2 linked regions of the Homo sapiens genome follow. The protein of the gene in region 2 interacts with the protein of the main gene of each other region in a pairwise test. Each region holds a gene or a part of one and is shown on either strand. Other genes may lie near its edges.

Evidence for each region.
Region 1: the proteins of TDG (region 2) and SERBP1 interact in a two-hybrid assay, tested with the Homo sapiens proteins (one study listed by BioGRID).

Annotation. Positions count from the first base shown.
Region 1 is NC_000001.11:67,416,666-67,420,708, forward strand, and holds part of SERBP1 (SERPINE1 mRNA-binding protein 1), read right to left. Parts: intron 3,522-4,043; coding exon 3,344-3,521; intron 1-3,343. UniProt on the Homo sapiens protein: Ribosome-binding protein that promotes ribosome hibernation, a process during which ribosomes are stabilized in an inactive state and preserved from proteasomal degradation.
Region 2 is NC_000012.12:103,982,872-103,986,122, reverse strand, and holds part of TDG (G/T mismatch-specific thymine DNA glycosylase), read right to left. Parts: coding exon 3,189-3,251; intron 2,988-3,188; coding exon 2,905-2,987; intron 2,829-2,904; coding exon 2,734-2,828; intron 1,375-2,733; coding exon 1,203-1,374; intron 521-1,202; coding exon 395-520; intron 1-394. UniProt on the Homo sapiens protein: DNA glycosylase that plays a key role in active DNA demethylation: specifically recognizes and binds 5-formylcytosine (5fC) and 5-carboxylcytosine (5caC) in the context of CpG sites and mediates their excision through base-excision repair (BER) to install an unmethylated cytosine.

The sequences.
Region 1 (4,043 bases), on a different chromosome or scaffold from region 2:
TACAAATAAATTTTTGTGTTTTTATCCATGTTTTCACCCCTTACATCAACTCATACTAGTATTAAATGTCACTCCTTTGTACCAAACCAACACACTGTAAGGCAATAGAATGTTCTAATACAAATTTTAAAGGAGGCTAGAAACATAAAAACAAATTCACAAAACACCAGCAAATTAGAATCAATTATATATACTAATTGTGTGATTTTTAAATGTTTGCTATTTCAAACCAATGCTTTCAATTTATTGCAAACCACAGATCGAAAATATTCAGAAAAAAATAAAACCAACCAACCATATAACAATAAAAAGTAGGCCAGGTGTGGTGGCTGACACTTGTAATCCCAGCACTCTGGGAGGCATAGGCAGAAGGGCTGCTTGAGTCCAGGAGTTGGCACAGGTGTGTAGTTCCAGCTACTCAGGAGGCTGAGCTAGAAGGATCGCTTGAGCACGGGGAGGTTGAGGCTGCAGTAAGCTGTGACCATGCTACTGCATTCCAGCCTACATGACAGAGCAAGACCTTGTCTCAAAATAAAGTGTATGAGGGAGTGCTCACTTTGGCAGCATATATACTAAAAGTGGAACAATACAAAGATTATTAGCATGATCCCCACAAGGATGACACGCAAAACTGTAAATTGTTCTATATTTTAAATTAAAAAATAGAAACAATAAAAAATAAAGTATAGGGAAAACGTGTTTAGGCTATATGCAGATACTATGCCATTTTATATAATGGACATGAGCATCTGAAAATTTTAATATCTCTGGGTCCTGGAACGAATCCCCTGCAGATACCAAGAAACTGTACTGGGATAAAGTCAGGGCAGGGGGATCCTTTTTTTTTTTCTTTTTTCCTTTTTTTGAAACAGTCTTGCTCTGTCAACTAGGTTGGAATGCAGTGATGCTATCTTGGCTCACTGCAACCTCTGCCTCCTGGGCTCAAGTGATCCTCTCCCGCCTCAGCCTCCCAGGTAACTGAGACCACAGGTGCACGCAACCACATCCAGATAATTTTTATATTTTTTGTAGAAACAGGGTTTTGCCATGTTACCCAGGCTGGTCTCAAACTTTTAACTCAACAATCTGCCCACCTCAGCCTCCCGAAGTGCTGGGATTACAGGTGTAAGCCACTGTGTCCGACCTTTTTTCTAGAGCACTCAGACAATGAGGAGCAGAAAACAGAAACTCTGAGCTCTGTCAATAACACGGTAACACAGTTCTCCATTTGTAAATAGTTTCTTCCTTCCCCTTAACTACCTCACATTTGTCACGAGAATGAAGACATGTGAAAGTTAAAGTGTTGTTTTTTTTTTTTTTTTTTTTTTTTGAGACAGTCTTGCTCTGTTGCCCAGGCTGGAGTGCAGTGGTGTGATCTCAGCTCACTGCAACCTCTGCCTCCTGTGTTAAAGTGATTCTCCTGCCTCAGCCTCCTGAGTAGCTGGGATTACAGGCATGCACCACCACACCAGGCTAATTTTGTATCTTTAGTAGAGACGGGGTTTCTCCATGTTGGTCAGACTGGTCTTGAACTCCCGACCTCAGGTGATCCGCCCGCCTCAGTCTCCCAAAAGTGCTGGGATTACAGGTGTGAGCCACTGCGCCTGGCTGAAACCACGTGTTCTAATGCAGTTTTTTTTCTACAGGACTTAAAAAAGACAATGTCCTCATTTACTACTCATATGAAGTAAATGTTAAAAATCATCTCTAAACCTAAAAAAACTTTTAATCTTTTTAACCTCCATTTTATTTTAAAATGTTTCCAAGTTTGTCTTATAGCCATTTTGCAGTTTAAAAAATTATGCTTATTGGCTGGGCATGGTGGCACACGCCTATAATCCCAGCACTTTGGGAGGCTGAGGCAGGCGGGGATCACTGAGGCCAGGAGTTTGAGACCAGCCTGGCCAACATGATGAAACCTCATCTCTACTAAAAACACAAACATTATCCGGGCATGGTGGCGAGTGTCCGTAATCCCAGCTACTGAGGAGGTTGAGACACAAGAACTGTTTGAATCCGGGAGGTGGAGGTTGCGGTAAGCAGAGATGGTGCCACTGCATTCCAGCCTGGGCGACAGAGCCAGATTCTGTCTCAAAAAAAAAAAATAAAAATAACTAATACCTTATTGAAAGGGTTTGCCCTCACAATATTTTAATTTAACTTTACCTTAGGATGATAAAACTCAGTCTGGATTTCTGGCACAGCCCAATTTATGATATGAATAAATCAAACACAAATGTCAAAAGGTTAAAGGAAGCTGATAGAGAAAATGAATTTAGGAGAAGAAATAATATAGTTAGGGCTTGTATGAGTTTTTAAAGCCAAACAGGAAGCCGCACTGAAACATTCCTCTAAGAACACACCCCAAAGCTTAAACGGAAGCTACCAAATCAAAAGCCATCAATGTGACTTTCTCCAATACAGTTGACCCTTGAACAACGTGGCTTTGAACATTCTGCCTCTGTCAGTCTTGAGACAAGCAAGCCCAATCCCTTTTCTTCCTATCCAAAATAAAGACCTTTGTGATGATCCAGTTCCACTTAATGAACAGTAAATATATTTTCTCAACATTTTCTTTAGCTTACTTTACTGTAAAAACACAGTATATAATACGCAACATACAAAATGTGTTAACTGGTTATGTTATCACTAAGACTTTCAGTCAACAGGTTATTAGTAGTTAAGTTTTGGGAGAGTCAAAGGTTACATGTGCATTGATCTGCGGGGTCAGTGCCCCTAGCATCCTCATGTTGTTCAACAAGTCAACTGTATTTTCACTAGTTTCCATGTTTCTTAAGTAAAACCCACATATACTTTGGTTTTTAAAGTCGTCATTCCTTAGACAAAATGCACATTGCCATTTACTGAGTGTCCTGGCCATTATATATGGTATAGGCAGACAGTTTCAAAAGTTGAATTCTAAATGAAGTCACTTACATTTTAGGTTAAACCATATGAAAATGTCAAGATTTCAACCTAACACCATAATACCACAGCCCTTTAATGATCCCCAGTTTGGCAAGATTTCAAAAATACAACCACAACTTTGAAAAGAACTATCATATTTCTGAACACCAATAACTACAAGATACTCCACTAACAGCTTTTTAGGAAAAAGTAACTCTACCACATAAAACATAATTACAAATTGATCAAAGGACTAAATTTCTTAGAATATGTGATAATACAGTTTATTTTCCTTATAAAGCAAATTATCTGCCCCAAATGATCCTATGTAAAGCTTTAACAGACAAATAACCCATGTGAAATTTTAAAACAAAAATTATAAATACAATTCAAGTCACATCTGAACATTTTCAAACACGACAAAACTTAATTTTACCTCTTCACTCTTTGATTTATGAAGAACAAATCCCTTCTTCCACTGCCCATCAGCACCTTCATTTGGTTTTCGGATATTAAATTCTACTTTTGCCCGGTCCTTATTTTGAATAGCCTTCCACTCATCCAAAGTCATCTCTTTTGGACCCTCCTCTTTTACCTCTTCAACTTCATTCTCCCTGTGAAAAGGTTTTCAAGTTTTATACCTGGTAGAGAGCTGATATTACATAAAAGTATTTTAAATTTATGATTTTAATTGAGAAAATTAACCTTGTAATCTTTTAGAGAAAGATTATTCAAGGATGAGGGTACCCTAGTTTCCTATGTAACTAAGCAACTTGGTAGAGACCAGGAATTCAGTGTTTGCTAATTAGAGACAAGTAAGGAATATGGAATTCATACTTATGAACTCTTAAATGATCATTTATCAGTAATACAATCTAGAACTGGCTTTACGAATACTAAAATACACATTTCTTAAAAACACTACCTTGTTTAAAAACTACCCTCTTATGTAAAATCCTCAGCCTATCTTCTCCTAAACCACATTTTTAATTTCCATAATTCCCACAATATGTAACTCTTAATAACATACAAGAAGGTAATCCTCTAGGATGTCTGTCAGCAACCAGGGTTCAAATTTTGGAATATAAAAGAACTGTTCCTCTATGCTTTGTTTCAGCAACTAGCACTTAGAGCAA
Region 2 (3,251 bases):
GGTGAAACCCTGTCTCTATTAAAAATACAAAAAAAATTAGCCAGGCATCGTGGCGGATGCCTGTAGTCCCAGCTACTCGGGAGGCTGAGGCAGGAGAATGGTGTGAACCCAGGAGGGGGAGCTTGCAGTGAGCCAAGATCGAGCCACTGCACTCTAGCCTGGGTGACACAGCGAGAATCTGTCTCAAAAACAAACAAACAAAAAAGAAAATGTACTGTAAAAGTCTGTGTAATTCAACGTGAAATAACCATCAATTTTTCACTATTAGTCACTAAATAAAATTTCATATTATCATTCCCATTCTTCAATAATTTACTCTCCTTCTATTAAAATTTTCCCCCCAATCCTGACCAAACCGTCTTTGAAAGGAATACACATGTGGAGGGAACCATACTTAGCCCATTTGAAGAGAAGCCACAAGGTTCACTGCTGCATGGATTTTCTCCGTAAGCACCACCATATGCTGCCTCATAACCTGGATCATATTTTTCTTCCTTAACAGCCATCTTCTTTGCATCCTCTGTGAGGAAGGTAAAAAGGATTTAAATCTGATTTTGTACAACAATTTTAAAAGTAGCTTTATTCAGAAATCATGAACAATTCTTTTTCTTGAATATTCATATACACTGAGATACATCTCTATTAATCTTTTAAACTTATAGCATGTACTAAATAAACACATAAGAACTGTAAAAACCGCTTACATTCAACTTTACGTAGGGTACAATATTTCTTACATCCCTCTGCTCTGGCACTCTGCAGGTGAATTATCTGCAGAAGTGCCAGAGTAGAGGGAAGACCTTGGTAAAAGGAGATTTTAACAGTGACTAATATTCATTATCAGAGCACTCTGGCTGCGAATATAATTGTTTTCTTTTTTCCTGCTTTTAAATCCATAAGATACTTTCTGTAATGTGTGTGTGTGTGTGTGTGTGTGTGTGTGTGTGTGTGTGTGTATGTGTCTATATATAGACACACACATATGTATACGCACACAAGTGTATACACACATATATGTATATAGACATACATACTTATGTGTATATATGTATATATACACATGTATATATACACGTGTGCATATATGTGCACACATATGTATATGTGTATATGTATATATGTATATGTGTATATATATGTAAGTATATATGTGTATATATACACACACAAAATGAATAAAAGGAATGAGGACAGTAACATACCTTGGGCAAGCTGTAGGTCAAATGTATATTGCACCTCTTGAACGTCCATATTTCGTTCAATGCCTTTCAACTGATCTCTTAAGTCCTTCAGTTTTATGTAGTAATGAACTTTGTCTTGGGCTCGAGGAAACTGAGCACATCTTGCACTGGATGATGGCATAACATAGCAGAGCTAGAATCACAACATTTTATAATTTCAGAAATCTTATAATTCTATTGAATTCACTCATTGAGATTAGAATATTTGTCTTTATTTGGGTTAATAACTTGATACTTAACTACATATAAATATATGTAAAAATCAATAAAAGTAGTTGCTTTTAAGGTTGAATTTGTAATACTGACTTATTACCAAGTCAGGAAGTGAAAAATAATGAGCCTCCGCCTAATGAGCTGCCTCCTGGGTTCAAGCGATTCTTCTGCCTCAGCCTCCTACGTAGCTGGGATTACAGCGCATGCCACCATGCCTGGCTAATTTTTGTATTTTTTAGTGGAGATGGGGTTTCACCATGTTGGCCAGGCTGGTCTCGAACTCCTAACCTCAGGTGATCCGCCTGCCTCGGCCTCCCAAAGTGCTGGGATTATAGGCATGAGCCACCACGCCCGGCCTCCAAATGGCATGTAACAGAGAATGACACAGTACTCTACAGGAATTTCTCTACAATTCACTACAGGTAGTGAATTTGTACCATTTTAACCAAGCAGACAAAGGTGGGCCTTTATTTAAGCAAAAACCAATGCTATAATAAAACTCATCAATTGCATATTTATAAGAAATTATGAACAAAAACAATTTTAAAGGAGAAATTTAAATATATTTAGGTGGCAGAAACATTTTTAGGTTTCCACAAAAACCTGGCAGCAAATTAGCTTCTCCATCAGTTAAGATGTTGTATATACAACATGTAAATCTGTGCACTGTGTTGTTCTTTAAAAGTTGTAAATAAAACCTAAAACTAAGAAGCAAAATTGGAACCAAATGCCTGCAGAAGCTCTGTAGAGAGGACAATTTGAAAAACACTGTTATTTCATGATGACTTTGTGTATAAGACAACAGTATTGAATGCCAGTTAGGTTGGCTGGAGGCTTGTCTGGGTTGTATTATTTATATGGCTCTAAAATGAAGTTGAGCTAAGATATATAAATGGGGCAACTGGTTTTCCTAATCAGGATCATGTCTGTGTTTCCATGTTTGTTTCACAACAGTACGAGGGCTAAACCATTTGAATTTGACAACTACATGCCATTAAATGTATTCTGAATGTAGTATATGAGCCAGTTCCTCTCAATATTTTCACTGAATAACAACATCAAGACATTTAGCTGACAAATGTTTTTCTTTCTAATAAACCCTAATAGTATTTGAATTAATTTACAACTATTAGTTAAAGCTGATGTATAGGTATTATTCAACAAAATACAGTGTAATTGTTTTGCATGGTATAAATCACAATGGATAGGACAAATAAGGAAATTATCTAGAAAAAAATTCACATTTAGCTGATTTACAAATTCAATTTTAGGGACTTACAGTTTCTGTGTCTGGAATCTTATGGGGCTGAAGCCCAAATTCCAAGTTCTTAACCTTTACTCCAAAAACTTCTTTACTAAAAATTTCATAAATACCTAAAATGAAATACAAACATATTTACATTGCCCATAATGTTAGCAAAGAAAAAAAAAATTTAAAAGTAAATCTTACATTTTCCATTAAACACTGCTATTCGTGGCTGATATTTCTGTAATTTCTGTACTAGAATACGTCCTCCTTCACGAAATTCTTTACTAAAATTGAATTAAAAAGTAGTCAAAAATATAAATATGACAATATTTATAATATGCTAAATTCAGACAGCTTTCAATGAAAGAGCATATTGTACATTTGTTGAGCTCAGCTTGAACTAGATACATATGATGTTCCTAGAATATTTGGGGCACCAGCATACTCAAGGTTCCAACCCATAAAAGCAAATGCTGTGTACTTACCTGGAGAGATCTTTGCTGCCGGGCGTGGTCCTTTCCACCATGTTGGTAAATCCAATACCATAC